Homo sapiens: one gene and its partners. The main gene of each other region encodes a partner of the protein of the gene in region 2 in a complex. Each region holds a gene or a part of one and is shown on either strand. Other genes may lie near its edges. The genes, in order: PLCG2, FGFR1, FGF2 and FGF23. A codon is read from its position in the direction of its gene.

Evidence for each region.
Region 1: the proteins of FGFR1 (region 2) and PLCG2 are in contact, whole or in part, in a cryo-EM structure (PDB 8JQI), measured with the Homo sapiens proteins. Residues at the interface, in NP_075598.2 of Homo sapiens: Lys504, Asn506, His541, Lys542, Lys598, Ser602, Tyr605, Gln606, Arg609, Glu612, Tyr613, Ser616, Lys617, Lys748, Asp755, Arg756, Val758, Ser762, Gln764, Glu765, Tyr766, Leu767, Asp768, Leu769; in NP_001412678.1 of Homo sapiens: Phe528, Arg540, Thr568, Phe569, Pro570, Asn571, Phe577, His585, Cys586, Arg587, Arg589, Ser590, Thr591, Met592, Gly595, Leu601, Thr602, Asn604, Leu622, Arg623, Cys624, Ala625, Glu626, Phe627, Glu738.
Region 3: the proteins of FGFR1 (region 2) and FGF2 are in contact, whole or in part, in a crystal structure (PDB 1CVS), measured with the Homo sapiens proteins. Residues at the interface, in NP_075598.2 of Homo sapiens: Glu162, Lys163, Leu165, His166, Ala167, Val168, Pro169, Ala170, Asp246, Val248, Arg250, Ser251, Pro252, Val279, Ser281, Asp282, Pro283, Gln284, Pro285, His286, Ile287, Ala314, Gly315, Val316, Thr319, Asp320, Glu324, Gly344, Asn345, Ser346; in NP_001997.5 of Homo sapiens: His158, Phe159, Lys160, Lys163, Tyr166, Gly170, Phe173, Arg186, Lys188, Leu197, Gln198, Ala199, Glu200, Glu201, Arg202, Gly203, Val205, Ser206, Tyr215, Val230, Glu238, Leu240, Asn243, Asn244, Tyr245, Asn246, Leu282, Pro283, Met284.
Region 4: the proteins of FGFR1 (region 2) and FGF23 are in contact, whole or in part, in a cryo-EM structure (PDB 7YSH), measured with the Homo sapiens proteins. Residues at the interface, in NP_075598.2 of Homo sapiens: Glu159, Lys160, Glu162, Lys163, Lys164, Leu165, His166, Ala167, Val168, Pro169, Lys172, Gln244, Asp246, Val248, Glu249, Arg250, Ser251, Pro252, Val279, Tyr280, Ser281, Asp282, Pro283, Gln284, Pro285, His286, Ile287, Ala314, Gly315, Val316; in NP_065689.1 of Homo sapiens: Leu31 (codon at 2,992), Leu32 (codon at 2,989), Gly33 (codon at 2,986), Ser34 (codon at 2,983), Trp36 (codon at 2,977), Gly37 (codon at 2,974), Tyr43 (codon at 2,956), Ala45 (codon at 2,950), Thr46 (codon at 2,947), Ala47 (codon at 2,944), Arg48 (codon at 2,941), Asn49 (codon at 2,938), Ser50 (codon at 2,935), His52 (codon at 2,929), His66 (codon at 2,887), Ile75, Arg76, Ser77, Glu78, Asp79, Ala80, Gly81, Val83, Val84, Tyr93, Phe108, His117, Gln118, Thr119, Asn122.

Annotation. Positions count from the first base shown.
Region 1 is NC_000016.10:81,957,193-81,963,774, reverse strand, and holds the end of PLCG2 (1-phosphatidylinositol 4,5-bisphosphate phosphodiesterase gamma-2), read right to left. Parts: intron 5,820-6,582; coding exon 5,777-5,819; 3' UTR 1,090-5,776; downstream 1-1,089. UniProt on the Homo sapiens protein: The production of the second messenger molecules diacylglycerol (DAG) and inositol 1,4,5-trisphosphate (IP3) is mediated by activated phosphatidylinositol-specific phospholipase C enzymes. It is a crucial enzyme in transmembrane signaling.
Region 2 is NC_000008.11:38,465,462-38,472,983, forward strand, and holds the start of FGFR1 (fibroblast growth factor receptor 1 isoform 1 precursor), read right to left. Parts: upstream 3,175-7,522; 5' UTR 2,520-3,174; intron 2,264-2,519; exon of another isoform or gene 2,211-2,263; intron 1-2,210. UniProt on the Homo sapiens protein: Tyrosine-protein kinase that acts as a cell-surface receptor for fibroblast growth factors and plays an essential role in the regulation of embryonic development, cell proliferation, differentiation and migration.
Region 3 is NC_000004.12:122,822,260-122,830,002, forward strand, and holds the start of FGF2 (fibroblast growth factor 2 isoform 18 kDa), read left to right. Parts: upstream 1-4,915; coding exon 4,916-5,093; intron 5,094-7,743. UniProt on the Homo sapiens protein: Acts as a ligand for FGFR1, FGFR2, FGFR3 and FGFR4. Also acts as an integrin ligand which is required for FGF2 signaling. Binds to integrin ITGAV:ITGB3.
Region 4 is NC_000012.12:4,376,501-4,384,953, forward strand, and holds the start of FGF23 (fibroblast growth factor 23 precursor), read right to left. Parts: upstream 3,213-8,453; 5' UTR 3,083-3,212; coding exon 2,872-3,082; intron 1-2,871. UniProt on the Homo sapiens protein: Regulator of phosphate homeostasis. Inhibits renal tubular phosphate transport by reducing SLC34A1 levels. Up-regulates EGR1 expression in the presence of KL. Acts directly on the parathyroid to decrease PTH secretion. Regulator of vitamin-D metabolism.

The DNA of each region.
Region 1 (6,582 bases), on a different chromosome or scaffold from region 2:
AAAACCAGTTTTGAATTTTAGGGGAGTCAAATTTAGCAGTCTTCCTTCAGGGATGCTGCTTTTGTAGTTTTGTTTAAGTAACCTTTCCCTACGCCGATGTTGTGAAGACCTTCTAGAAATATTGTTTTATCTTTCATATTTTGATCTATAATCTAACTGACTTGATTTTTGTGTGTGGAGTAAGATAGGAGTCAGATTTCACATCCATCAGCGATGCTGAAATAAATTTAATAGATATAAAACTGGTAAAACCAGTGATCAGTATCCACAAGGGAATGATCAATGGAATCTCCACAGGACACAGTTTGCATTTCTACGGACAGGAATAATTTGCATTATTCGGACAATAAAACGTGGAGAAACCGTATAAAATCAGATAATCTGGATAGCGGATAACCTATACTGTATGTATATATATTGTTCTCTGCATTCTCCTTTAAACAAGCTGGAACATCTCACTGGTTCCTTTGTTAATTAATAAGATTTCTGACATATGTTCATTATATATCTTTATGAGAGTTATGGTTGTATCCATTTAAAAAGTGGTCATTTGGCAGTTCTAATTTCATCTTTGCTTTTTACTATTCCTTGCTCATCTTCTAATGCAGAGGTTTGTCATAGGCTATTATTAAATCTTTGGACCAGGGTAACTAATCCAACCACTGGGGGCTGGGGGTTGGGGGTCAGAGGTATGAGATACAACATGGCTTCCTGTGGACCAGGGATTGTTGGCAAGAAACGCAGTGATTGACAGTTCTAGGGAGCCTATCACTCAGCTGAGAAATACAGGGACTTACTATAAGGTCCTCGCTCCTTCCAACACTAAACATTCTTTCAAAACTGATAAATTGAAGAGCACTCAAGTATTAATCGTACAAACTTGAGTTTCAACACAGAGTGAGTTTTTGCTGAAGATAAACCTGTAACCCAAAGAAACGTGGGATAAATAGGATAGTAAAACACATTTCAAAAAATAACTGTAACTCTACCTATCTCATGACTAAATTATTGTATGTGTGTGTGTGTTTTATTTGGGAATATAAAAGGTGAATAGCAGTTTTTAAAAAAAGTTCTGGGCAGATTGCTATATTCATTCAGATGAAACTTTTATTTTTCAAAATGTGATACAGCTGTTTAATTTTCACATTAACAACAGCCAACATCTGTGTGACTCATTCACTTAATTCTCTATGTACACAAAGCACATACTATTTATATAAAAAATAAATTAAGCTTTAATAATGAAACACAAGTTTACAAATGCAGCTTCTTAAGGCCTAATGAAAAATAAGAAATGTGGAAATTTCTGAGAGGCAGGATCACTGGAATCTGGCTCTTCAAAAAGAAAATATTTTGAAAATTAAAAACCAGGGACAAATTATTGAGTATTTTTAAATGCCAATTTTCTAATTCTGTATAATTCCAAATCTAATTATTAACTTTTTGTTGGTTAGAAGATAGCTTTTACGGTTGGGTTCAAAAAGTTAAATGTCACACAGGTTGAAGGTTAAGCTATTTTCCTTTTAAAGTCAAAAGGGTTGAGGTCCTTTTTAGCCATCCTTTTTGCTTCCAAATACAATTCATCACTTAGTGGCCCTAGATCAGCAATCTTGAGAGCTTGTTTGGAGGTTCCAGCAGGGGAGCGCAGCTACTCGTATACCCTTGACCGAAGACCGGTCCTCCTCTATCGGGGTTGGTCGTCCTCTTCGACGGAGCGCGCAGCTTCGGGAGGGACGCACATGGAGCGGTGAGGTAGGAAGGGGACACCCACCTAGCCAGCCAGATCAGCCGAATCAACCCTGGCGATCAATGGGGTGACAGATGTCGCAGCCAGATCGCCCTCACATCCGATCAGCAATCTTAACATTTTATGCTCAGATACTCTTAAGTGAATTTTGAAAATCTCTATCTTCTTGCACATTGCTATATTGACATCTAAAATTTCTCATTATAAATAGCTGCAAAGTGCTGGCATACCGTAGACACTACATGTTTAAATAAAACTGTTGTATTACTTTTTAAATTTAGCCCAGGAGGTTCTTAATATAAGTTATTTGATAGATACTATGATCTTTTTAAAAATTTTATGAACAGGGCCATTTTTTTATGATCAGTCTTACCTGGAACAAGGCAATTTTTAGTAGCAAGGAATGCCCCACTTTTCCTTTTACTCCTTGAATTTGTATTTTCATACCACTTCTCCCTCAAAATTTTAGCCTAATAAATTTTTGATTTTTATGTTATTTAATTCTATCTCTGTACCAAAAGTATTATATAGTATCCTATAATCCTAAGGCTGTAAGCCTTTAAAATTTTCCTCTGGATTGAGCTGAATCAATAAACACATAGCCCAAATTTCACTAAATTATTAAACATAGTAAAACTTCTTTGGAAATGTATCACTTAATGAGATAAAGAGGGCTTTTCTCCACAATTATTTCATCTATGTAGATTGATAACATCTTAAGATTGAGCCAAAGTTCATCATCAATTCTATTTTCCGTTTTCAATTTCATTTATGGAGATGTTGATCCTTGTTCACACAGATACATCAATGGGAACGGAAGCTTTATGATAGCAGAATCACTGAATTCTTCCAACCCCTTTGTAGTTACATGCTAAGAGACTCAGAAATCTACAGGCTGTTCCTCCCACTTTGTTGAAAGCAAAAAATTTGGAACCACCAGAAAAACTTGGAAAATCCATTTGCAAAAAGATTTGTGCCCTGTTGATAAGTCTTTCACTTTCCAAATATCCACATTTTGAATTTTTACACCTTGGGACATGCTCTACAGTAAGACTAGAGGTGGAGACAGCCATATTTTCTTTTGTAAGGTGAGAAAAGGGCATTTTCTCAGGCAGATGAATCTTAGAGAAGAATATAACAGGAAGATGAGGCTCTGAACACTGCTCCCCTGAGAGTACTGGAGTCTGTGTATTCCTTGGAAAGCTCTGGTATACTCCCAGGGGTAAGGCTAGCTTAATCTAAAGGCCACTGGCCATGGCGACTTAAGTTTAGATTTTAACTAGGTCACAAAGCATACGAAGTATTAGAACATGTTGTCCGGCTGCCTTCTTAATAGAGCAGTAGGTCTTCAAATGTGTTCCACTATAGATAAGTCCCATGAGACACTTCTGGCAAAAAGATTCTGAGATCGAATTTGGAAAACAAGACCCTCTACACCTTTCACTCCTGCACATCTAGTCTCACAGTAGAAAAACTTTATTTAGTTTTTATAACCTAAGTTTCCCAAACTCACAAGGCCTAACCAGCCTCCCCACTTTATTTTTCCTTGTAATAACCAATATTCTAAATAACACACTTAGGAAAATGGTGAACAAAAACAGTGTAATACATATGCAGTGGTGGTTTTGATCTATCAGTGCTGCTTCCATCTTTCAGAATGTGCCTGTTACTAGTCTTCTTGGCCTGGATTGGCTGTGCTTTAACAGTCATGTAGGAAGCATGTCTCAGCTAGATACTGAAGTTATGTAGCATCACATAGACTCTGGGAAGAGCCATCATACCATGTGTGCCTTTCCTGAGAGAATCAGTCCCTAACACCACCAAGAACCAGATTAACGTGTTACTCTGTCAAGGACAGGAGGAAAGAACCGAAGAAAGTACTCTCTCATGGTGGATTCCGGTTGTAGCACCAGGAGAAGGAGACAGTTTTAGGCAGAGGGTTCTTCCCAGCACCATTTATGTCATAATCCCCTGACTTCTCTTTGGCCACGCATGGATTTTACACAGCAGCAGCTGGAGAGAGGCTTAGCTTCTGCTTCCTATGCCGCCATATGTCAGGTTCTTTGATATGGTAGCAAAAAACCCATTTGGGCAGAAAGGGGATGCAGGCCTTAGCACTGTGGCTTTAAAGTAGAATGAAGTGAGGAGCTGAAAGGAGGTAATGACAGCAACACCTGAGCTCTGCTGTGTGGAAGTCCTAACAGAGCTGAGAGGGGTTGGGGGAGATGCCAGGTGCAATAAATAGGTTCTGGTGGCTACCTGGCCAAAGGCTAATGGGGCCCTGGCTACAGAGTGCCTGCAGCACTCATCCCAGTGCCTTTCTCACCTAGCCTTTCTTGAAAGTTGCTTTGAACATCTGCCACTAAGAGGAATGTTCTTTCTTCAGTTGCTGACTGCCAAATAAAATAGCAGCTCCCAGTTGGAGGAGTAACTGGAGTGATAGCACCAGATAACAGCCCTTCCTTGGCCAGACTGCTGTTCCCTGTGTTCCTGGCTTCAAGCGAGGTAAATGGCTTTCTTTTAGGAGCTTGTGGATGGAGATGATTGATGAGACCCACAGCTTTTTGTTTAAACATCCACACCCCCAAATCTTGGCACTGTATTTGGCATGTGGAGGTGATCAGTAAGTTTTTGTAGAGTGAAGGGACCAGAAGGATCTTCTGGTCAGAGCCTGATTTGTTCTGCCCTGCTTTTCAGCAGTACATGCATACTAAGCCCAGCATTTCGGGTAACAAGAGGAGGGTCAGATGGGTTTCTAGGGGCCAGTTCCATCCACATCAAACATCAGGCTTACTGCTGGTTTGTTCTTCCCCACCACAGCCATCGTTTTTCACAGTTACACTCCTTTTCCCATCAGCTGTAAATTCACTCATTGAGAAGTTGTGACTCTACCAACCACCTCCCTTCCCAACCCAGCACTCTCCTCTCCTTTAAAAAGCCATATTACATTATTGGTATGTATTAACAACTTAAGATGCAGAGGTGTAAAGCCCTGGCCAGCCGCACATACTGTCATGAACTAGGTAGATCTGCCCCAAGGGAGATGGCTGCATTTGAAATTTTCTGTAACACCCTAATGCTTAGCCCATTAAAGCTCAGCTTGCTGCTCCAGAAGACTGGGTAACCCAGAGACATTTCGCCATCAACCTAACTTTTGTCTACCTCTTTCAAGCAGCAGTTGACCTCTTGCCTGTGGAGAGCTGTGGACCAAGGGCCATTCCAGCAGCCTCCCAGCCAGTTCAGTAGGGCCATGAGGGACTAGTGGGGCCAGAGCCTCCCAGCAGCTGGCAGAGCCAGGGGCAAGTGAGAACCTGCCCCTGCAGCACGGCTCTGGTCTCTCTGATGGGCTTTTTAAAACAAAGAGGCCCCAAGATTCCTACCCTCCATCCCAGTAACTCTAGTCACAAAACAAGCTGTCACCATTAATTAGAAATTGTCTTAATGAACAGATCCCATCACTCAGCCATTTTCTTGTGGACTGCAGCAGGCAGCCGGTGGTAGTTAAAGTACATTGAACTGAGCAGGCTGCCTGTGGGTAGGGCTTCTCTTTGGGCCCTTATGGAATCATTTGCCTTTGAGTTAAAATCCTTTTCAGAATCTCATGAATAGTTTCTTACATTTCCAGCTCATCCTCCATGGACATCAGTTACCTGGATCATTAGAGGTAGAATCTTCTTGGCCAGAAAAGAAATCCTGTTCACTGCACAGGTCGTGCAACAGAAGGCTTAATTGATCAAGGTTTTCATTGCTTTTATTCAATGAGGTTTGGAACATGAGAGGCCAAAAATGAGGAGCACATTTTGGGGAATCCTCTATAAAGAATATAAGTTAAGAAAGTTGTCCAAGATGAAAATAATAGGAAATTACCCCAACTCATGCCAGTTGGGTCTTAAGAAATGTCCTTGATGGCAGGCTTGAAGAAAAGATGTCACAGATTAGCGTCTTCCCAGAGTGTGAATAGGGCACGTTCTCCTACATGCAAACACACATGCGCACACACACAATACCCTTACACACATACCCCAGCTTCTATGAGTAAAACTTGCTGTTGCTGACTCTCTTCTCTCTTAACCTGAAATAAAACAGATTTCACCATCAGCAGTGGGCCATGAGAAATGGGCTGCGTGCTGAACTCTGTAACATTTCTCTTTCTGTACATTTGCCAGTCATTCATAGCTGGATGGTATAGGGCTGAGTGTCAGAGAGGCAGACTCCAAGTTCCTGGTAAGACGTTGAGACTCAGAGAGGTTAAATCTCCTCAATGGTAAAACAGAGTAAGAGCTACTCTGCAGGCTGACATGAAGATTCAATGAGAATAATGTGAGTAAGGGAGGCAGCACAGTTTCTCGTTGGTGGCTACTATTAGGATTTTTGTCTGGATGATTCTTTCTTAGAAGATTTAGACATATTATGAAACACTTGGCAACCCCGGCCGCCCCGCACCCCATTACATGCCTGTAGCACAACCACAAGCATCCCTGTTGGGGGATCTTGACCCAGTCTAGAGCCGCTGGACTAGCCCATTCTTGGAAACACAATAAGTACTCCTTAAAAGTCAGTGGTCATCATTTATTTTCGCTATTAAATTGAAGTGTCCTTCTAGAGGAAACAGTTCTACTTAGGGGAAGTGGCAAGCGCCTAAGGTATTACTGTAGGTTAATTTCTAGAACAAAGAGAACTAGAGTCAAGGGTGCCAAAGGATTTTTTGTTTGTTTGTTTGTTTGTTTGTTTGACAGAGTCTCCCTCTGGTGCCCAGGCTGGAGTGCAATGGTGTGATCTCGGCTCACTGCAACCTCTGCCTCCCAGGTTGAAATGATTCTCCTGCCTCAGCCTCC
Region 2 (7,522 bases):
TGATGCAGTTCATAACCCTCCCAGCTGGAGTCAGGCCCCAGCAGCCTCCCGGTCCCCAAACACCCTGCACTCGGAGGGTCGGGGCAGCCCCGGAGCTTCTCCTAACCCACTGGGGGTAGGATATGTAAACAAGTCATTAGGGAGGCAGGCCATCGGCAAAGACGGCCGGCAATAGCAGAGGCTGCTGAACCTCGGTCACCGAGAGGAAGGTGGATGACCCGGGCGTGGGGGTGATTACCCAGACCAAGGCGCGTCCCACGGGGCCCTGCTACTTCGCTTTTAAACAAGCCTCAGGGAGGAAACCGGGAGCCCGGGCCAAGGGAGGAAAATGGCCACTTTCTGCTAAACAGTCTCAAGGCTAGATAGTATTCCAAAAAAAGCGCTGGTCCGGAGGTGCAAAGGGTAGGGCACATCTGCGGAGGAAACAGTCACCTTAATTACCACGTCTAGAGAAAGTGCGATTTCATTACAGCCTCCAAAACTACCGCCCAAAGAAGGAAACCAGAGAAGTGTTTTCAATTTGAAAGAGGCTGGAAAGAAGCGGGTAAGACACCGACTCTCCCCACCCTCCCGGCAACTTTGGACCACAAGGCGCTTTCCTGCCTCAAAGACTATTACCAAACACAACTCGAAAATCCAACCCCGCTTTCAAACCTGTAGCCGTTATTTAAACGGTAAAACACCCCACTTTAGTTTCCGGGGGATGCGGCCCAAATCAGTCCTTAAAAACACACAGAGAGCGCCTCTGGCAGCAGCCGCCCACGCCCCCGGCCCTGCGCACCGGGCTTGCTCCGGGAGGGGCGCGTGACGCCACCGCGGGGCAGCCGAGAGGGGACCGCGGGCTCCGGGCAGGGCAGGCGCTCCCGCAGCTCCAGCTATAACACAAGGGAGAGAAAGCAACGCTTTGGTTCCAGAAACTTCCATCGTCAAGGCCAGTTCTGGCCAGACGCACAGCCAAAGAGCCCCCCTAGTCTAGCGGATGAACCGTTCGCGAGTGGCACCCCCTAAAACCTTGGCCCCATCTCCCAAGATGCCTCTTTACTGCGCAATCCAGAAAGCACCCGGACCGCCGCCACCCACCAGCGGCGGCGAATAACTTGGTGAGATCTTAAATAACTCGGGATCCAAGGGAACTTTCTTTTCTCCCCCGAATCTCAACGCCGCATCTCCAAGTCTCCAGAAATGTTAAGGAGGGAGGTGGTCAAGACAGGCTGAAGAATCTGAGTTTTAATTTGGGGGAGGGGGAGGGGAGGAAGAGGGAAGTTAATAATGCGGCTGCGGTGTACCCGTGTGGGGTGAAACGGAACCAGATGCGGCTGCTACATCTGGAAATTGGGGGTGGGGGAGTGCTGGGGGAGAAAGGCACCGTGGTAATGTTTTTCAAAAGGGTTGATAGCTTCTGGGCTCAGAACAAGAAACAGGCTTCACACCCCACCCCCCCCCCACCACCACCAAAAAAGTGTCTGGCTGCCTCATAGGGGGTGTGTGTTCTATATGAACCCCCATCTACAAGGTCCATAAAATTCCTCCGCAAACATGGGTCGTAGCCTCACTTTTCTCCCAACCCCAAACATAACGGTAGGGGAAGCGAGGTGCAGAGGGGTCTGGGCCAGAGAAGCATACGCATCGCTGCCGAGTGAACCACACCGGACAAAAACCCTCATCCCTTCCCCCACCTCTAGGAACCAGATTGGGACCGAACGGTCCTTCCGCCCCCATCCCACACCTCGGCTTAACGACCGTGGGTTGTCCTCCCGTTCCCCAAACTTCCGACCCTTTCAGAGACCGTCCAAGTCATAAGATCACCCCTTCTGGAAAGGGGAGTCGTTTTTCGCTCTCAGCTCAAGCAGATTCAGCCATTTGGTGACGACACCTCCTTAAAACCTATTCCAAGAGAAGCTAACCTAGCCCTCCACGTCCTCCGCAGTTCATCTCCCACCCCATCCGACCCCAACCCGCACCCCAGGCTTTCCCGGGGGTGGAAAAGGACTTAGGAATGCCCCGGATTTTTAGCGTTGAGCCCAAAGCTACCTGCTGAATTGGGGGTGAATCCCCAAAAGGGGACCAAAAAGACATGGAGTGGAATGCAACACACACACATAACACACACAACGCATCCCACCTCGCCGCCCACTCCCGCCCTCCTCCCCAGTCCAGGAAACCGCGGGCCTCGCCGCCTTCGCCCCGGGCCTGTCCCTCCCGGGACTCACTGAGGAGCCGCCGCCGCCTCGCCAGCTCCCGAGCGCGAGTTGGAGGAAAAGTTGGGCGGCGGGAAGAGCGGCGGGACGAGCGCAGGGAGGGGGCGCAGGAGACGCGGACGGAGGGAAGGGAGGGGAGACCCAAGGGGCGCGGATCGCCCGGGAGGGAGCCAGGAGGTGAAAGGGGCGGGCGGCGAGCGGAGGGAGGCGCCGGCCCCGGCTGGGCTGCGGCGGGCAAAGCGCGCAGCCGGGAGGCTCCGGCGCCGGGGGCCGCTCGGGACGCCAAGCCCGCCCCAGATCCGGGGGCGCCGCGGCTCTTACCTCGCTCGGCGTGGAGGTTCCGCCTCGGGAGAGTCCGCCGTGGCTTGTGCGAGCGGGCGTGTGCCCGCGTCCCCGGCTCCGGCCCGCCGCCCCCGGGCTCTGTTCGGGTCCTGGCGGGGTCGCAAGAGCTCCGCGGCCGGCGCTCGACTCCCGGCGGCGCTCGGTGCTCGGCGCCTCCAGCCCGGGCGGGAACAATGGAGCCGGAGCTGGTGCCCCGGAGGCGGGGCGGGGGGAGGGCTCCCGTCCGCCACCCGGGGTCTCCAGACCTTGTGCCCCCCTCCTCCAGAACGCAGCGGCGGCGCCTCACTTTCCTTGCAGACCGGGCTCCATCGCCCTGCGGAGGCCCCGGCGCCGCGGCGTGCCCGACTGCAGCACGGGTACCGTGCGCCCTGCGGGGCGCCCCGAGCTCGGACCGGAGAAAAGTCCTTGGGTTCCGCGGCTTTTCAAGCAGCGGCGCGCTCGCGGCCGGGGAAGGCGAGGTCGCCGCAATGCGCTACGAGGGGTCTCGGTCCCGTCCGGACGTGGCCGCCCAGCTCCCGGCACACCCGGGTTCCTCCGCGCGCTGCGGCTGCACCGGCGTCCCGGCTCCCGCTAGCTGCCGCCCGCCGCCGAGGACGCCGCGCCTGTGGCCGCAAGAGCGCTCCGAGCGCTATGCGCCGGCGGGGCGCGAGGGCTCGCTCTCTCACTCCCACCCGCGCTGGTCCCTCCTCCGCCTCCGCCCCCTGCAGCTGCCTGCTGGGCCTTGTAGTTCCCCAGCCGCGGCCCCAAAGGACGGGGAGCGGGCCGAGCTGTCCGGCGCTCTGCCCTTCTCTTCCTACAGCCTGGTCTCCTTTGGCGTTTGCGCCCCTGCATCTGAGCACGTCCCAGAGGGCGCCGGAATGTCAGGCCCTAGACATAGCAGCGGTTTGGGGGCTAGGGGGCAGGTGAAGAGACGCCGCAGCCTTGAGGTTGTACCTGGTAGCGTGGGCTTTGGAGTCTGTGCGCCTTGGGGAAATGATTTTCGCGCTCTAAATCTCTGTTTTCCCATCTGTAAATGGGGGATAATAGTGCTTTTCACATAGAGTTGAGGCGTCAACGAGGGCCTAGCGCATAGTTAACACTTAGTAAATACAAGCCGGTTTTATTATAAGGTCAGCCCCTCCTCAAACCCTTCCCTTGGATTTCAGCTTTCCCCAGCCACATAATTTAGGTTTTGTGGTCCACCGGGAACTGGACCCTGTAAATTCTACAGCGATGCTGTTGGCTTCCAGAAGTCTCCAGCCTGCAGTGAATGTCTAGGAAGCAAAGAGTAAGCAGTGGGAGTTGAGGGGAGACGTGTGGTTGGTTTGGAAATTAATCACAGCCCACTCAGAACACCCTCCAGTACTGTGGAACACAGGAAAGTGGCTAAAATGCTTCCCCCTGAGTCTTCCCGCGAAGTGGTATAATGTAGTGGTTCCCTAATCCAGATGGACACGGGTCCTAGGGAACGTCTGAAAAATACAAGTTCATGGGCCTGCTCAGACATGAGGAATCACGCTGTCCCAGGAAGGAGCCAAGAGCCTTTATTTTTTCCAAGGCTCCTTGGGGCGTGTGATGTGAGCCCAGGCTGAGGCCACCATTGGGGTGGGAAGTAGGCAGCACTTGGTCTGAAGGATTCCTCCATTCTGTCCATCATTTATGAAGTTTGATGTAGGACAAATCATGCATCTGATAAAATCAAAACGGGGTATCTGTTGATACTCCTTCACAAGATGGTCATAAGAATCAAATAAAATAATAGCTCTCAGTGGACCAAAAATATTACACAAATGGAAGTCACTATGAAAGGTAGTGGCAGGGCCTGTTCCCTTACCATCACCCACCTCAACCCCGAAACTTGTAGAAGTTTGAATACTGAATGAGATCCCCCCACCCAACTCCTCACCCAACCCACCCACGCCTCCCTGGCTAATTTAAGAAAAGAGTTGGCCGGGTGCGGTGGCTTATGCCTGTAATCCCAGCACTTTGGGAGGCCGAGGCGGGTGGATCACGAGGTCGGGAGATCGAGACTATCCTTGCCAACAAGGTGAAACCCCGTCTCTACTAAAATACAAAAAAATTAGCCAGGCATGGTGGCGCTTGCCTGTAATCCCAGCTACTGGGGAGGCTGCGGCAGAGGAATCGCTTGAACCCGGGAGGCGGAGGTTGCAGTGAGCCGAGATTGTGCCACTGCACTCCAGCCTGGCAACAGAGCAAGACTCCGTCTCAAAAAAAAAAAGAAAAGAAAAGAAAAAATGGTCCTCGCGCTATTTTTCTAATCCACCAGTAGGTGACAGACTAGTGGCCAACACAGTGTTATTCACATAGTAGACACTCATGAAATCCCTTGACTGGCCAAAGAGCAAATATTCAATAAGTATTTGTTGAACAAATGAGTAAATAAACAACTAAATTACAGCTCACGCCTGTAATCCCAGCACTTTGGGTGGCCGAAGCGGGAGGATCACTTGAAGCCAGAAGTTCAAGACCAGCCTGGGAAACAAAGTGAGCCCTTGTCTCTACAAAATATTTTTAAAAATTAGCTGGAGGTGGAGGCTGAAGAAGGAGGATGGCTTGAGCCCAGGAGTTTGAGGCTGCAGTGAGCTATGATCCAGCCACTACACTCCAGCCTGGGCGACAGAGTAAGACCCTGTCTCAAAACAAAATAATACAAAACAAAAAATGAGAAACAAGAACTCATATCTTTGTTGAATAAATGAACTTCAGCCACTGTTTATAGGGTTTTCCCCTAAGAGCCACCATTTAACCTTTCAGCTCCTGGTCAAGCTTGGTTTATACTCCTATGTAAGCTGCCCACCCATTAGGCCTCCTGCATTTTAATTACTACACATCACACGCTTGTAAGAAGGCCATACTCACACCCTACCCCCAAGAGGCCTTCCCTGCCCATCCCAGCTTTGTCAGTCCCTGGACCCCCTGCTCACTTGCTGACTATCCACTGAGTTGATACCGTGCTTTGTTAGTGGTTTTCCTTACTCTGCTTTCTTTCTAACTGGTTTCTAAACTGCTTTAGGGCAAGGATCTTATCTAGGTGTCTGACCAATTCTACACAGGAGGTTTTCCATGTATATTTATTGTTCATGGACTTGCTAAGCATAACCAACCTGGGTTACCAGAGGAGGAAACACAATTTGAGGGAATATGATTGGGAAGACAAGCCATGAAAAAAATCCAGCATTTAATGTTAACACCCAGCTACTATTTTTCTACTTTGCTCCGTAATTCTTCTCAAAAAAGGGTTTTTTTTGTTTTCTTTTTTTTTTTTTTTCCTGAGATGGAGTCTTGCTCTTTTTGCCCAGGCTGGAGTGCAATGGCACGATCTCAGCTCACTCAGCTCACCTCTGCCTTCTGGGCTCAAGCGATTCTCCTGCCTCAGCCTCCCGAGTAGCTGGGATTACAGACACCTGCCACCATGCCCAGCTAATTTTTGTATTTTTAGTAGAGACAGGGTTTCACCATGTTGGCCAGGCTGGTCTCGAACTCCTGACCTCAGGTAATCTGCCCACCTTGGCCTCCCAAAGTGCTGGGATTACAGGCGTGAGCCACCATTCCTGGCCCAAAACAAGGGGTTTTAAATCAAGCCCCTTTTTCTTATGATTTAGAACCATTGTAGGAGTATCTTGAACCCCAAATAAAAGGCTAAATAATGCGTTCTTGATTTAAACAGAAAGATAATGATCTAAATGCTTGTTTGGGGTTGAGGGACATGGGCCTGCTGCTGAAAAATCCTCTATAGATTTATCAAGAAGCCAAAATGAAAGCAAGTGGCCAACTTGCCAGGGTCCCTCCTCCACTTCTCAGGGAAAGAGCTGATGGCAGCTGAACAGAGAAGGTGAGAAACTCAGCAAAGGCATGGGCTGTCCACACACTGCAGACAGGTTTCTGAATAATTGAGAGTTGGCTGCTTTTATCCTTCCAGCCCACCTCGCTCCTTTTCTGTCCCACTCCTCTACTCGCCCTCTTTCTGAAATGTAGCCCTCCCATTTCTGGAAGGGCCCCAGGCCAGTGGAGGGAGAGTGTCCCTAGGGCAGCCCTGAGCTGCTCCAGGCAACAGGGGTCAGACAGCAGCTCTGCCTGTCTCTGTTCTGCCCGAGGCCTCCTGGCACCTTGCCTCCCATACAGAAATGTAACCTTCCCTCTGAGATAACAAAGAGCTGGGAGGGTCAGGGAGGATTTGTCGGCCCTTCGCCCTGCCAGCTACATGTCTAAGGGGAGACAAAGGCCCTCATGCTGGAGGGCCTGATAACTGGTTGGGGGCCTGTTGCCTCCCACATCTGTGGGAGGAGGAGACCACTGCTGAATGAAACGAAGGGAAACGGAGCTCTCCCCAAAGCCCGGCCAGCTCTCTTTGTTTGGGAACACTGTAGGAAATCCCTTCCCTGTTCCTCCAGCTACTTGTGTCCTCAGAGTTTTCCCTGGCAGACGGGAGCTCCTCTTCCCCTCTCCCCACATTCCTTCTGCCCCTGCTCTATCTGGGTTCTGTTATTTTAGGGCTCAGCTGTGCCTACCAGGAATGATCACCCCACTACCCTGGGTCGATACTGCAGAATTAACAATTCTTTGTTATGGAACAAGTCAGGTAAAGTAAGCACCATTGACATGGGGCAAGGTTGCAGAACTTCCAGCCCAGGCTTCAAGAGTCCCCAGGATGTGGTGAGAGCTGGCAGAGTCTCCACTCCGAGAGCTGGTTGCAGAAGGGGATTCGGGAGGAGGGAACTGTCTGGGGTTTTCCCTACAAAGTGGATGGTTCACAGGTCCTGGGAGCAGGTGGGCAGCCAAGCCTTTTGCCCCAGGCCCCTGGAGTTAGGGAGCAGCAGTCAGTCACCATCTGGCCACCATTTGGTGACCCCTGTCTGTTCCCAGAGCAGCTTCAGCATGTCAGGGAAGGGAGGGTCTTATTTGGCTTGGTGTTTTTGTAAATAACATTCACTCTCTTCTGCCAATTTGGAGTGAGAAAGGGAGCGAGCTGTGTGGCAGCTCAG
Region 3 (7,743 bases), on a different chromosome or scaffold from region 2:
AATGTGATTTTCATTATGAAATGGTTAAAAGAAAGACTTCCACAGACATTGACTACACTGATACCTGCCCTTCCATAATGTAGATGATGAACTTAGCTTTCAAAAACAGTTTTCGGTGATGAAAATAATGCATTCCTTCATTTGTCAAAAAAGAAACAAACAAGCAAACCAACTTACTGAGGCCCCACTTAGTGCCATTAGGTCCTTGGGATACAGCAATGTACAGGTCAGAAAGATCTCTGCTCTAAGTTTTCTTGTATTATATTAGGGGAAGGAAACTGATAATAAATACAAAAACAAACAAGATACAATTTTAGATGATAAGTTTATGTGATAGTGAGTAATTAGTTGTTTGCATAAAAAATTCTACCTTCCAAAATATCACTACAAATACTTTAGTGTTTCTCATTCTATTATGTGTATGAAAGCATATTAAATAAATGAGATACTATTATACAGTTTTGTAACCTACTTCTTTCAATTAACAATATACAATATTGCAAGAATTTTTTTCATGTTATTATATATTCTCCCACAAAACTGTTTATTTGGCTACATGGAACGTACTACTTCGAATGAATATAATGTAATTTATTCACATTAATCACCTAGATTATCCCTTATTTTTCCTCATTATGATCAAGGATATAATGAACATCCAGGTTAATAAATCTTGTGTACATCTATAATCGTTTCTTGAGAATAAATTTCTTACATCAAAACTGTTGCCTCAAATGGTTATTTAAATTTCAAAAATTGGGCCAGTCATGGTGACACATGCCTGTAATCCCAGCACTTTGGCATGCTGAGACTGGCAGATCGCATGACCCCAGGAGTTTGAGACCAACCTGGGCAACATGGTGAAACCTGTCTCTATAAAATATACAAAAGATTAGCCAGGCATGGTGGCATGCGCCTGTAGTCCCAGCAAACCTGGGAGGCTGAGGTAGGAGGACCACCTGAGCCCAGGAGGTCGAGGTTACAGTGACCCACGATTCTGCCAATGCACACCAGCTTGGGTTGACAGAGCGAGACCCTGTCTCAAAAAAGAAAAAAAATCAAAAATTAAAACTGTGATGTACCTTTTAAAATAGTTTTCCCAAAATGCTGTATAATTTAGCCTCCCTCTGACTGTCGATAAGGTCTTTGGTTCACCTCATCCTTAATAGCACTGGATGATATCTTTTTCCTCCCGACTTTATGGGAGAAAAAAACTCATTTTCATTTTGACATCTATTATTTTTCTTTCTCTTTTTTTGAAGATACAATTCATGTATCATGAAATTCACCATTTTAAAGTGTTCAATTCAATGGTTTTCAGTATATTCACAAAGTTGTGTAATAACCATCACCACTATCTAATTCCGGAACTCTTTTATAGGTCCCAAAGGAAATCCCATACTCATTAGCAGTCACTGCCCATTTCCCTCTCCTTCAGCCCTGGCAACCACTAAGCTGCTTTCTGTTTCTATGGATTTGCCTACCCTAGGCATCTCATATAAATGGAATCATATAACACCTGGCCTTTTCTGTCTTTTTCCACTGAGCATAATGTTTCCAAGCTTCATCCATGTTGTAGCACGTATCAGTAATTCATTTCTGTTTATTGCCAAATAACATTTCATTGTATGGATATACCACAATTGATTTATCCATTCATCATTTGATGGACATCTGGCTTGTTTCCACATTTTGGTTATTATGAATAAAGCTGCTATGAACATTTATGTACATGTTTTCATGTGAATATATGTTTCCAATTCTCTTGGCTACATACCTAGGAGTGGAATTGCTGGGTTGTCTGGTGACTCTGTTTAATTTTAGAGTTAACTGTCAGACTGTTTTTATATTGACTACATCATTTTACCTTTCCACCAGCAATGTTTGAGGGTTCCACTTTTACCACATCTTCAACACTTATTATTTTTTGTTGTTGTTATTTCTTAATTATAGCTATCCTAGTGGGTGTAAAGTAGTATCTCATTGTTGTTTTGATTTGTATTTCTCTAATGTCTAATGATGTTGAGCCCCTTGTCATGTGTTTATTGGCTATTTGTATATTTTCTTTGGAGAAGTGTCTGTTCAAATCTTTTCCCATTTGAAAATTAGATTATTTGTTTGAATTGTAGGGAATACAAGTTATTTTACTGCGTGTAGCTGCTCCCCAGGTTTCTGGATGCCATTGTTAAAAAATATCATGACTTAGATTTTATCCCCGTGCTCCTGGAATCCTCAGGTTTCTGTGACACAGAGTTCAAGTGAGAGTTCAATCATTCTAGGGACTACTCAGCACCACAGTAGCACCTACAGAGATCATCTGGAGGGAGTGATTTTGTCTCAACAGACGGATCTTCAATGAAGATGAAACAAATCCATTTTGGAGAGAGATGTTAGAGAACTGATGGCGTTCAGGACATGCTACCCAAAAATAATGGTACCTTGGCACTTAAGAAAAGAGCAGAAGCAAGAGGGTTACTTTCACTTTCCCCAGATCTTCTCTTCTGAGGCAGACCATAAGACCTTCATTCCAGAGGTGCCTTCCCTATACCTGGAGGAAACAGACATCCTTATCTCTGAAGACACACGGACAGGGAAAAGAATCTGAGCAAATAGGCCTTGCTAAGTAAGTCCCCCCAGTTTATTACCATTAGATCACAGATTTGTCCAATCATACTTCTCCATGACTTCCACTTCTTTATCAATCCTAGCCTTAAAAATACACAGGCTTCCCTCTTAACTTTGGGTCTTAATTTCTGAAGTCTCCTGTTTTGTGTAAAACTCACATAAATAAGTTAGTATGTTTTTCTCTTGTTAATGTGTCTTTTGTTACAGGGGCTTCAGCCATAAACCTAGTAATGAATGGGGAAATTTTTTTTTTCCTCCTCTATAGAACATATACCAACTGCAAGAAGAAAGAAGAATATGCCTGGTTTTGGGCCTGGCGCGGTGGCTCACGCCTGTAATCCCAGTACTATGGGAGGCTGAGGCGGGCAGATCACCTGAGGTTGGGAGTTCGAGACCAGCCTGACCAACATGGAGAAACCCCGTCTCTACTAAAAATACAAAAAATTAGCCCTGCGTGGTGGTGGCGCATGCCTGTAATCCCAGCTATTCGGTAGGCTGAAGTAGGAGAATCGCTTGAACCCAGGAGGTGGAGGTTGCGGTGAGCCGAGATCGTGCCATTGATCTCCAGCCTGGGCAACAAGAGCAAAACTCTGTCTAAAAAAAATAAATAAATAATAAAAATAAAAACAGTATGCCTGGTTTTAAAGCTTCAAAGAATTTACTCATTCTCCTGTATGTAACATTCTAGAAATGCATCTGGAGTTAAAGCCTTCTTGGAGACTTAAGAACAAATGCACTTATGCATGGCCTTTTGAAACCTAATGTTTCTACAAGGAGGCACGTCCATACTTGCAACTCCTTCTAGAAGCTTCCCCAAATCTCCTGCCTCCCCACGCTGAGTTATCCGATGTCTGAAATGTCACAGCACTTAGTCTTACTCTTCTATGGCCTACTTTCTACTGCTATTTGTGTTACTCATGCTACCCATCTTATCTCCCTCAGTGTGTGAGACGCTGGCATCAGATTTGGCATCTCCCACACACTCAACATTATGTGTTGCACACAGTAGGTACTCAATACATGCAAGTTTTCTGAATAGATATTTTCCTAGTCATCTGTGGCACCTGCTATATCCTACTGAAAATTACCAAAATGCAATTAACTTCAATTTTACATTTGGGATTTACAGAAAATAACTCTCTCTCCAAGAAATGCATAACAATTTAGCTAGGGCAAATGCCAGGTCCGAGTTAAGACATTAATGCGCTTCGATCGCGATAAGGATTTATCCTTATCCCCATCCTCATCTTTCTGCGTCGTCTAATTCAAGATAGGTCAGTAAAGGAAACCTTTTCGTTTTAGCAACCCAATCTGCTCCCCTTCTCTGGCCTCTTTCTCTCCTTTTGTTGGTAGACGACTTCAGCCTCTGTCCTTTAATTTTAAAGTTTATGCCCCACTTGTACCCCTCGTCTTTTGGTGATTTAGAGATTTTCAAAGCCTGCTCTGACACAGACTCTTCCTTGGATTGCAACTTCTCTACTTTGGGGTGGAAACGGCTTCTCCGTTTTGAAACGCTAGCGGGGAAAAAATGGGGGAGAAAGTTGAGTTTAAACTTTTAAAAGTTGAGTCACGGCTGGTTGCGCAGCAAAAGCCCCGCAGTGTGGAGAAAGCCTAAACGTGGTTTGGGTGGTGCGGGGGTTGGGCGGGGGTGACTTTTGGGGGATAAGGGGCGGTGGAGCCCAGGGAATGCCAAAGCCCTGCCGCGGCCTCCGACGCGCGCCCCCCGCCCCTCGCCTCTCCCCCGCCCCCGACTGAGGCCGGGCTCCCCGCCGGACTGATGTCGCGCGCTTGCGTGTTGTGGCCGAACCGCCGAACTCAGAGGCCGGCCCCAGAAAACCCGAGCGAGTAGGGGGCGGCGCGCAGGAGGGAGGAGAACTGGGGGCGCGGGAGGCTGGTGGGTGTGGGGGGTGGAGATGTAGAAGATGTGACGCCGCGGCCCGGCGGGTGCCAGATTAGCGGACGCGGTGCCCGCGGTTGCAACGGGATCCCGGGCGCTGCAGCTTGGGAGGCGGCTCTCCCCAGGCGGCGTCCGCGGAGACACCCATCCGTGAACCCCAGGTCCCGGGCCGCCGGCTCGCCGCGCACCAGGGGCCGGCGGACAGAAGAGCGGCCGAGCGGCTCGAGGCTGGGGGACCGCGGGCGCGGCCGCGCGCTGCCGGGCGGGAGGCTGGGGGGCCGGGGCCGGGGCCGTGCCCCGGAGCGGGTCGGAGGCCGGGGCCGGGGCCGGGGGACGGCGGCTCCCCGCGCGGCTCCAGCGGCTCGGGGATCCCGGCCGGGCCCCGCAGGGACCATGGCAGCCGGGAGCATCACCACGCTGCCCGCCTTGCCCGAGGATGGCGGCAGCGGCGCCTTCCCGCCCGGCCACTTCAAGGACCCCAAGCGGCTGTACTGCAAAAACGGGGGCTTCTTCCTGCGCATCCACCCCGACGGCCGAGTTGACGGGGTCCGGGAGAAGAGCGACCCTCACAGTGAGTGCCGACCCGCTCTCTCCGCCTCATTTCCATTTCGTGGGTTCTCGCCCGCTCTCTCCCCTCCAGCCTGCACCCTCCTCCCGGATCTTCACTGCGACCCTAGCGCTCCGTGTGGTTTCTGGCCGCGCGGCCCTCGGCGGTTTCGGGTTCACCACTCACCCCCTCCTTTCCGGGCTGCGGCGTAGGCCCGGGTGTCCCCTGGGCTTTGGGGTGTGCCAATTTGCCCTGTAAACCAGTACCCCCGGCCCGGAGCCGCGGCGCGCCGGGGCCTCGCGGACTGGCTGTCTTCCCGCGGACAACCTGTCGCGTCGGGGATGCCCGCGGCCCCGCCATGCAGCTCTGGCCGCTTCTATCTGCTGCGTGCTGTCCCGGGGACAAAGACAGGAAGGACCGCAGCAGAACGAAACGGTCTTTACTGGAAAAACACCTTTCTAGAGTCCTGCCCTTAAATTCCGACTCGGGACGACCCGAGGCATATGGCACACTACTCTCACCCACTCTGTTTTATATTTTTCCGAATTGACGAAAGCTGAAAGAGCAAAAACAAAAACCAACCAGCCAACCAGCAAAAAATCCAGATGTTGTTAATAAAGTGCCATAGCTTTGTTTCAGTAGTGAAAAGAAGTGCAAACACTTTAATCTTCCACCTGCAGTGACTAGCTTTGAGACCTTGAGCCGACGCTTAACCCCAGAGCCGGTTTCCTCATCGCTCACGTGGGGCTAATATATTACTACCTTGCAGCAGGCTTGAGGATGAAATGAGAATTGCAGTTTTGCTTTCTGTAAGAAACAATGTTTGTGGTTCTAGAAAGAACACTGGCCTAAATAAGGAGTGCTTGGACTTTAGGGGATTCCCTAAGTCTGGAGTGGGGGCTGAAGATTTGCATTTCTAACATGTTCCCCGGGGATGCTGATCACATCACACTTTGAGAGCCACTGGTCTAGAGGAAAGAGAAAGAAAGGGGCATAAGATGAGCCGATTTACAACACTGATGGAATTTGAAGTGAGAGAAAGAGGACTAGAATATATTGTAACCTGTCCTCCTGTAAGTGTATGTAAACATGTGTTTTAAAAGCTGTGTGTTATGGCGTTCCTTCCTTTATGGGTTCCAGGTGGAGAATCTGATTCTCTCATTGCCTGAGAAAAGACCCACAGGGGTCCCAGCGCCACTCCCCTGTAGTTCTGCCTTTGTCTTGGGATGCTAATGGGATGTCATGAGGGGAGGTGGAGGGGGGCTGGAAGAGAAGAAAATTCTACAACCAAACGTGAATTGGCAGAAGAATGGGCAATACACTTTCATATGAGCTGAGTCTTTATTGCTTCCAAAATAGCAACCTGCAAGAGAGGCAAGTATTTAATTTTTTTCAGGCTTGCCATAATTTAAAAATTTTATCAATCACTTAATCCCGTAAAACTGAAAAGATGCTTGTAACCTATTAGATGGGTTAGTGCTAGTTCTCTATTCTGGTAACTTGAACTCATCTATTTCAAAAAATTATCTTTGTGATTGAAGTTTGTTCTGCAGTTGTCTGCTACGCCATCTCAGCTGACAAGGGCAAGGTGCTGTGTGTCCCAATTGGTTTTGTTCTTTCTAGTATCACAAATTATTTATTAAAAAGCATGTATTATGACCAGAAGACAGAAGAATTTCCCTTTAAATTAAATTAATATTTGGGGCTTCCCCTAATACTCTTTTTTTTTCAGACTCTATTAGTTGCTGAATCATTTTTTCTTTGAAGATTTTGATACCCGATTCGCCTTAGAATAAAACTATGTAGAGGTTAGCCAGTGGACATAATTTTGAATTGCATACCACATTACCACCGTTGTAAAAACAACCGTTAACTTTTTCTTCCTAACTGTGAGTTGGGTTTTCATTTTTGTAATCTTACTTTAACTCTGTGGTTCTCAAATGGGGACGATTTTGCCTCCCAGGGGACATTTGACAATGCCTGGAGACATTTTTGGTTGCTGTAACCTGGAAGGGTGCTACTGGCATCTGGCAGGTAGAGGCCGGGGATGCTGCTGAACATCCTACAATACACATTATAATACCCTCAACAAAAACATTTTTGACCCCAAATGTCACTAGTACTCAGGTTGAGAACTCTGCTAACTTTATAACTAGCTAAGGACAAGACATTAAAAGGGAAATGTAGAATAACTCATCCAGACTTGTGGAGACTACCAATTTTTTTAAAATTTTTTATTTCTATAGGGTTTTAGGGACCAGGTGGTAGTTGGTTACATGAGTAAGTTCTTTAGTGGTGATTTGTGAAATTTTGTTGCACCCATCACCCAAGCAGTATACACTGAATCCAGTTTGTAGTCCTGTCCCTCCCCAACTTCCCACCCTTTCTTCCCAAGTCCCCAAAGAGACTACTCTTTTTTTAAAGGATACCTGTACCAGGCAATAGACTGACAAGAATACAAATCTAAAAATGACAAATTTCATCTATTTCTATGTAGCCCAACCTGGACATAAATTTAAGTACAGTATATTATTTTCTCACATATTGGATGTTTACTGATAGTTGACCAAACCATGAGGAGACCCCCCAAAACAAATAAAACTGACCAGAAAACATGGAGAAGAGTTAATAGTAGCCACAGTTTCCTACTACATTATGGCTCAGATTTCTAGAC
Region 4 (8,453 bases), on a different chromosome or scaffold from region 2:
TTAATCTTTCCTCTTTCTTTTGGGTAACGTTTTTTTTTTGAGACGGAGTCTCACTCTGTCACCCAGGCTGGAGCACAGTGGTGCGATCTCAGCTCACTGCAAGCTCCACCTCTGGGGTACAAGCGATTCTTCTGCCTCAGCCTCCCAAGTAGCTGTGACTACAGGCAGGCACCACACCCCACTAATTTTTGTATTTTTAGTAGAGACAGGGTTTCCCCATGTTGGCCAGACTGGTCTCGAACCCCTGACTTCAAGTGATCCTCCCACCTCGGCCTCCCAAAGTGCTGAGATTATACGCGTGAGCCACCGCATCTGGCCTCTTTTGGGTAACTTTTAATTGTAGTGTGTAATTTTTTCCTGCACTTTTTTTTTCCCATAATACACATGACAACTCATTGAACAGTACAAAAAGTTATCTACATAGACTAGGAAAAGTAGATCTCCCTCCCACTACCCTGACCCGAAGTTCCCCTCCCCGCATTCATGTTTAACTCTTTAAAGATGCAATGTTTAGCTAGTGCCTATGTCTAAGGAAACAAAATCACATTTCTATTTTTAAAAATCTGAAGTCAGTTCAATTTATTTTGCTGCTTCTCAGTCATTTTAATTCACTCTAACTAGCACTCAGTGATCCCTTGGGGCCTGATACGAGGTGGGCTTTCAAGGAAAAGGTCTAAGTTCAGACTGCCAGCCCAGGAGGTTGACTCTTCACACTCACTCCCCACCGTAGCCGGCCTGTTCTGTTCTACCCTAATTCTTGTTCAGGAAGAAACGTCTTTAAGGAGTTCCTTTCAGCAACGGGATTCCAGGATTCGAGACAAGTTGTATAAACATTCTCTAGTTGGATGCAGCCCTTTCCATCTAAGAGAATCAAAATAATTTACCATAATCTACTATTCTGCATTTTAAATCACATATAGTCTTTTTTTTTTTTTTTTTTTTTTTTTTGAGATGGAGTCTCGCTCTGTCACCCAGGCTGGAGTGCAGTGGCGCAATCTCGGCTCACTGCAAGCTCTGCCTCCCGGGTTCACGCCATTCTCCTGCCTCAGCCTCCCAAGTAGCTGGGACTACAGGCGCCTGCCACCACGCCTGGCTAATTTTTTGTATTTTTAGTAGAGATGGGGTTTCACTGTGTTAGCCAGGATGGTCTCAATCTCCTGACCTCGTGATCTGCCTGCCTCGGCCTCCCAGAGTGCTGGGATTACAGGCGTGAGCCACCACACCTGGCCCACATATAGTCTTGAATTAGAGTAAGGGTGTCCCCTCCATGAGACATGCAAAATTGCATTTCCTGAAAGTCTGGTAGTGAGCTGGCTGACAAGGTAGGACGACAGACCATGAGGTCCTTGAAGGGTTGTGTCTTAGTTTTCAGCCACAGCGCTTGGTAGAATGCCAGGCACATGGTAGATCCTATTAAATATCCATTGAATAAAATGAACAACACTTCGGGTGCATCAAGTGTATCCAGATTTAATTGAAATTTTTGCCATGAGACTCAAACTTGGTTTCCAAGATGTTGACTCCTGAGTCTTACTATATTCTCTGGAGTTCTGGAACCTGTTTGGTATTCGGAGAGAACTTTCCTCTCTCCTTTTATCTCCTGTCAATATGCATTTAGTACTTGAAGAGGTTAAACTGTCAATTTCGCATGTTATATATCTTGCAACTTAATTTTGCATGTTGTATATCTTGCAACCAGGTTTAAGGACCTTTGGAGCCTAGAAGAATAAATGCCTCACACACAGCAAGGTCACAGCAAAAATAATTAATTTATTTATTACAACAATAAAGGGCAAATCATAATTCCTATGTTTTCTTTAGTTAGAGATTGTCTAACTAATTTTTCTTTCCTTTAATTTGAGCTATATTGGATCAGTTTGCATTTTTCTGTATGCTTTGAGGTGTTTTCTCACGTTTTCTTAAAATAGAAGATCCAGTCTTTTTCAATATCTATCCCTGCTTTCACCACATTACCCCTTATATAGGTGCACACAAAGGGACCCTCATTTGAATCATTGCTAATGGATTGATTATTGTGGATTGTGATCCAATTCTCCACAAACCTGATCTTTAAAAACATTCCAGTTGTCTCATGTTGCCAATAAGTTTCTAACTAGCTTGACTTGCTACTGACTGGACACCTTTCAGTTCCACAGAGAAGAATCACCAACTCATACTGGGTACCTGGGTACCTGGGTGTCTGAAACACCCATTAAACCTGTTGGATGGATGGATGGATGGATGGATGGATGGATGGATGGATGGATGGATGGATGCATGGACAAATGAATGGGTGGATGGGTTGTATACTTGGCCATTCTCACCAAGACAACATACATGGACAGTCTGTCTTTAATACATTTTTCCAAGAATTTTTATAAGGCCAGAGTTGGAAAGAGCCCCCAGATTTATCTATAACAATCTGGGTATGACCCAGGAATCTTTACAACCTCCCTAGTTAACCCAGTCCAAAGTCCATGAGCTGAAACTTAGTGTCTGTTGATCTGCCTGGCTTCTTTTTCTCTTAGACTCCTTGCCTTTCTTTCTGTACATTTTTTCAATCTTTTGACGGGGCAAAGGGAACATGGCTCCTACTGTGGGAAGGGTTTTAGTTGAAATAAAAATTATTCATATTGAGAAAAACCAGCAAATGCTAATTAGGAGAGTGACAGAATCTTCCCCTAAGTTTTAAATACACACGCACACACACACACACACAAACACACACACACACAAAGACAATAAGTGGTTCCTGGGCAGAAAGCTAGGAGGGTTGGATTAGCCCTCCAGTCTAGTCCCCAACCTCCCCAAGCCTCCTGTAGATGGACAACAAGGGTGCTCCCCTTCTTCCCAGCCTGAAGCCCTACTCACTGTAGATGGTCTGATGGGGTGCGCCATCCACATGGCCATTCTTGTGGATCTGCAGGTGGTAGCTGTTCCTGGCTGTGGCTGTGTACAGGTGGATCAGGCCACCCCAGCTGGAGCCGAGCAGTGGGGAGGCATTGGGATAGGCTCTGAGGACGCTCATGCTGCAGACGCTGCACAAGGCACAGACCCAGAGCCTGAGGCGGGCCCCCAACATCGTGCCCTGCTCTGAGTGGCTGGTGCTGAGATTGAAACCTGACACTCCTGTCGGGACTCTCCTGGCCCAGGCCTTACTGGCCTTTTCCTTCTCCCTTGCAAGTAGCTGGTGTGAGGATCCTAGACTGGATTCCCTCCTTTTTGCCGTCAGACTTTTAAAGGGTAGCAGTGTGACATCAAACAGGAAAAACTCCACTGTCCACATCCTCTGTGTTGTAATCAGCCCATTGAAAGAAAGTGCAAAGACCCCGGAGGCGCACGGAAGGCACGTCGGTTCCAGACACACACACCCCTCAATTTCAAGCCAACGCTCCAAAAAATGAATGACGTGTGGGCAAAAGTTATCTGCCACTCTGGGCTGTCTGTTGACCTGTCCCACTTCCATCAGGAAATGTGAAGGCAGCCAGCGGTTCCCAAAAAAAATCCAGCTTCAGTCAAGCAGTCAACCGACTCCTAGGCAATTAATCTCCTGTCGAGTTTACTTATTTTGGTTTTCTTTAAATTCCAATCAGCAAGTATGTATCCAGTGCTTAATCTGTGAGCAGGATTTGGTGGGTAGCTTGCAGGATATAGAGATACATGACACCATCAGGCAGATGGCATCCTCTAAGAACACCCACTTCATGAAAGATGGGAGCTAGGAGCAGGGGCACAAAAGCCAAAGTTGCCATTTTGGGAAGATTTTGAAATGGAAGAAAAAGAAGTAAGGCCTTGAGGTCAGTGAACATGCCAAGGTTCAGTTTCTCAGCTTCCTTAGTCTGGACTTCACTGAATATGCCAAGGTTCAATTTCTCAATTTCCCTAGTTTGGACTATCGAGGGCAACTAAACTAGTAGTCTCTCCAGTAGTAAGGAGACTCATTCAGAGACCTCATGGGGATTGGAACAGCTGCTGGCTGAGCACTGGGGATCCGAGCCTCAGGACAGGGTGTCCCCACATTTAGTGTCTGTACATGAGTGCTCAGCTTGGTGTTGGATGCCTGCCTGCAGATGCTGTTCACAGTGAGCCCTCTGGGAAGCTACACCTGATGTCGGGTGGAATAGTCCTGGCACATACAGTCTAAAGGGGAGCAAGCTACTGGAACACACACCCGAAAAAACACACAAGGAGTTTGCTATTCTTCCAGTTTCCCTGTACTGAGTATATGCCATGTACAGGCATCAAGCTAGACTCATGTACAGGTTGATATAGGAGACAGCAAGATGTGATTCCTATCTTGAGGAGCTCAAATCTAATGCAGGAGGCAGATAAAAATAAGTAACTATAATACAAAATGAGTGCAAGCTTACAGGTATAGACAGAAAGAGATGGCATTTGTTACCCTACATTTGTACAGTTTTTTTTTATAGTTTACAAAGCATTTTCACATCTATTAGCTTATTTGAACCTCACTGCCACTCTGTGAGATAGGCACTCCATGCATTATCAAGATTTTAATACTTTACATGAAGAAATGGAAATCTTAGTGTTTCCATGTCCAAAGGCACAAAGCAAATAAATGGTAGAGCCAGGACAAGGTCTTCTCCTTCCCTAGGCTGCTTCTCCAAAGAATCACAGCAAGAACTAACGCTCATGGAGAGCTTACTGTTCCACTTACTGCTCTAAGTGCTTTACTTGTAGTAACCCATTTCATCTTCAGAATAACTCTTTGAGGAGATGCTGTTATTTTCTTTATATAGATCAGGAAACTGATCTATGCACACAGTTTAAGTAACTTGCCTAGAGATAGAAAGGTAACATGTGGAAGAGGTTGGATTTGAATCCAGGTCTGGCCCCAAGACCTCCTAAGCACTTTTCAAGGTGTCCAAACCCATACAACATGTTAGAGCTAAAGCCATGAGAGCCAGGAGCTTGGTAAAAAAGTGCAGGTGGCAAAGCAGTCCTCTGTTATTCTCTAAAAACCCAGGCTTTTACCCAGGATGAATCTCTAGGACACATGGTGCTTGTCTCCCCAGGGTTGAGTGGAAGAAGTATGACATGAAATGTTTATATGTAAAACAGTCTTCTTTACTAATAGCCACAGAATGGATTATAAATATAATGCTACGTCTTAGCTAATTGAAGAAATAGCTAGCTTTCAGAATTGAGATGCAAATCACTTAGGAACATTTGCCCTGCATTTCTTATTCTGGTTGTGAAAGGTAAAGAGATGGGAAGTAATTATAAGGCAATCAGCAGCCATTGAGAACCTTCTCCATGTAAGAGATGAAAGGGAGGGTGTAGGACTACAAAGCAGGACTAACTCCTCTAGGGGCTCCCAGTGTAACTGAGCAGGGAACATCTTCGTTCAATACAAGGCACTGTGTGGGAGGAGCTTCATTACTAGGAGCAAATTAGTGAAGATGTGGTACTATATTTATAAACCATTCTGTGGCCATTACTAAAGAAGCCTGCTTTATACATAAACATTTAATGTCATACATCTTCCAAACAACCCTGGGGAGACAAGCACTATGTACCCTAGAGATTCACCCCGGGTAAAGACCTGGGTTTCCGAGAGAATCATGGAGGAGTGCTTTGCTGCCTGCACTTTTTTACCAAGCTCCTTCACAAAAAAGAAATGTTGACCAGGCGTGGTGGTTCATGCCTGTAATCCCAGCACTTTGGGGGGCCGAGGTGGGCAGATCACTTGAGGTCAGGAGTTCGAGACCAGCCTGGCCAACACGGTGAAACCCTGTCTAAACCCCGTTTAGTAGAAACCCTGTCTCTATTAAAAATACAAAAAAATTAGCTGGGCGTATTGTGTAATCTCAGCTACCTGGGAGGCTGAGGCAGGAGAATCACTTGAACTGGGAGGTGGAGATTGCAGTGAGTTGAGATTGCACCACTGCACTCCAGCCTGGATGACAGGGCGAGGATCTGTCACCAAAAAAAAAAAAAAAAAAGGTCATGGTGGGTAGATGCTGTGGTCAAGGAGGGCTTTGAGGGAAGGAGAGAACTGAGGGAGCTTTGTAGGATACACAGAGAAGGGTTTTCCCCAGCACCTGCCAAGCATGATGGAGAGGGAGCACAGGTGTCTTGGGATAAGTCCACAGCCATTCGGTCATTCCCCTAGCTCCTGGAGCGACTGGGGAAGGGGCTCCTCCGTGGCCACCTCAGCTTGTCTTATTAGGAAAGAGAGCCCTGTGCCAGCTTACCCAGGTCCAAAGCCTCCCCTCCAAGAAGAAGCCCTGTGTGCTTAGCATCTGGCTCTAATGGCAGAGTCCAGCCCAGAGGAGTAGACTTATTTTTAAGGAGGATGGGAGGAGAAGCAGCATTTCCCACTTAGAGAGAGTAAAGGAAGGCGCAAGAATCTCAGATTAATTCTCCCCATTTGAGATAGGGAAACACTGAGAGCGGAGATGAAGATTTGCCCATTGGAACACGGAGACAGCAGAATGTCCAGCTCCAGGCTGAACTCCCTACCAGTGGCTTCCAAATCTGGCTGCTCACTGGAATTACCTGTGGAGCTTTAAAGCCATAATTGCCCCAGGACTAATCTTAGACCTACTGAATCTGCAGGGGCAAAAGTCAGTTATTTGTACTTTATTCAAAGCCACCTGGGAGATTCTAATTCTCCACACCAGATGTGGCTGATACTAAAGTACTTATCAATAAACAGGCTTTGAGCGCCAACCACACATCAAGCACTGGAAATAGTACACAGAGACTAAGGCCCTCTTCAGTGGCAGGCTCAACTTTCCGTTCCCTTCTAGGATGTCCATCCTAACTGCAGGTCAAGATGTAAATGGGCCTTTCTAGGGAATTTAGTACTGAATGCTAAATCAGTACCTCGTGCTGACAAGTACCCTGTCCTTGAGTCCAGTGCATGGTCTCCTCTGAAGCTTCAGTGGGTAAGAGAAGGGAGAGGCCAGGACATGTCGGTTCCTGTCCTTTGCACCTAGAGGGCACTCCTCCGTCACAGTTCAGGTCCAAGGGTCTGGGAACCAGTGTGACCTTAGGAGCCCAAAGAGAAACACAGATAGATACCAGCTGTGAACAGGAAGCCCAGGGAGGAGGCCCTGGGTTTGTGCTGTTTGGACGTCACTGTCCTTGGTTCCCAGGTAGCTACCTGAATGCAGCAGATAGGCTGGTCCCATGGCAGGCAGGGAAACCTGTTGTCTCCAGCCTGGTTTGGAACCCACTTCTCTGGCATTAAGAGAATTTGCCCCGGGAGCTGTGTGGAAGCATCAAGTCTAGTCCCTGCATTTACGCTCATAGAATCAAGGCTCTTAGTATAGATAAGGGCCTATAAGAATCTGTATTCCGGCTGGGCGCAGTGGCTCATGCCTGTAATCCCAGCACTTTGGGAGGCTGAGGCGGGCAGATCACCTGAGGTCAGGAATTTGAGATCAGCCTGGGCAACATGGTGAAACCCTGTCTCTACAAAAATACAAAAATTAGCCGAGCATGAGTGCGTGCCTCTCGAGCGTGCTGCTCGAGAGGCTGAGGCAGGAGAATTGCTCGAACCTGGGAGGCAGAGGTTGCAGTGAGCTGAGATTGCACCACTGCACTCCATCCTGGGTGACAGAATAAGACCCTGTCAAAAAAAAAAAAAAAAGTATTCCTGCAAGTTCATTACTTTCCTTCATCTCCTGACTTCTTTTTATCAGCATCTGCTCTGAGAAGGTACTGAAGAAGATTCTCACCCAGATCATGTTCACTCAAAGTAAAGACTGGGCAATAATTTTCAAACAATAACATCAACTTCATTGTCCTTAGCTATGATGAAAAAATGTCAGAGGAATCAAGGTAAAAAAAAAAGCTGGGAGATAGGAGAGAAGGTGATCTCACGGTGGCTTGCAGCCTTCTTTTCTTTTTGAGATCCTGGAAGGACCTGGCAGGCCTCTGCTCCCTGTCCCTTCACTCCTCCTGAGTCTGTCTCCACCATTTCAGTAACGGTGTCCCTGCCCTCTTGCTTTCTCAGAGCATTACATGTCGTCCAGACCTCCAGCGTTCAGGGAGATGGATATCTAAGCCATCTAGAACAAAAATTTTTTTTTTTTGGCTTCTTGAAGTTCTCTGGAGAGGTGCCATTCCTGTATCTCATCTGAAAATGTCATCCCAGTGTCATCTTGACAGCAAAAATGTGCTTCCCTATAGCCAATCTGATTCTCTCTTGCTTTAATGCATCCAAGCAATCAACACATAACTTTTTATGGAAAGCCTGTTATATGGCTACTACCTTGTAGAAAATCTTTAGAGAAGTCTGAGAATGAAAAGGTACAGTCCTGATCTTCAGGGAATTTGCAATCTACTAGGCAGAATATTCTTTGTATTTGTCTAGCACTTCACAGCCCATAAAGTACACTCATATCTATTGTCTCTTCTGAGGCTCAAAACAGTCCTATGGGCAGGTCTGGGGGGTGTCGGGGACGACTTTCCCAAGAGCA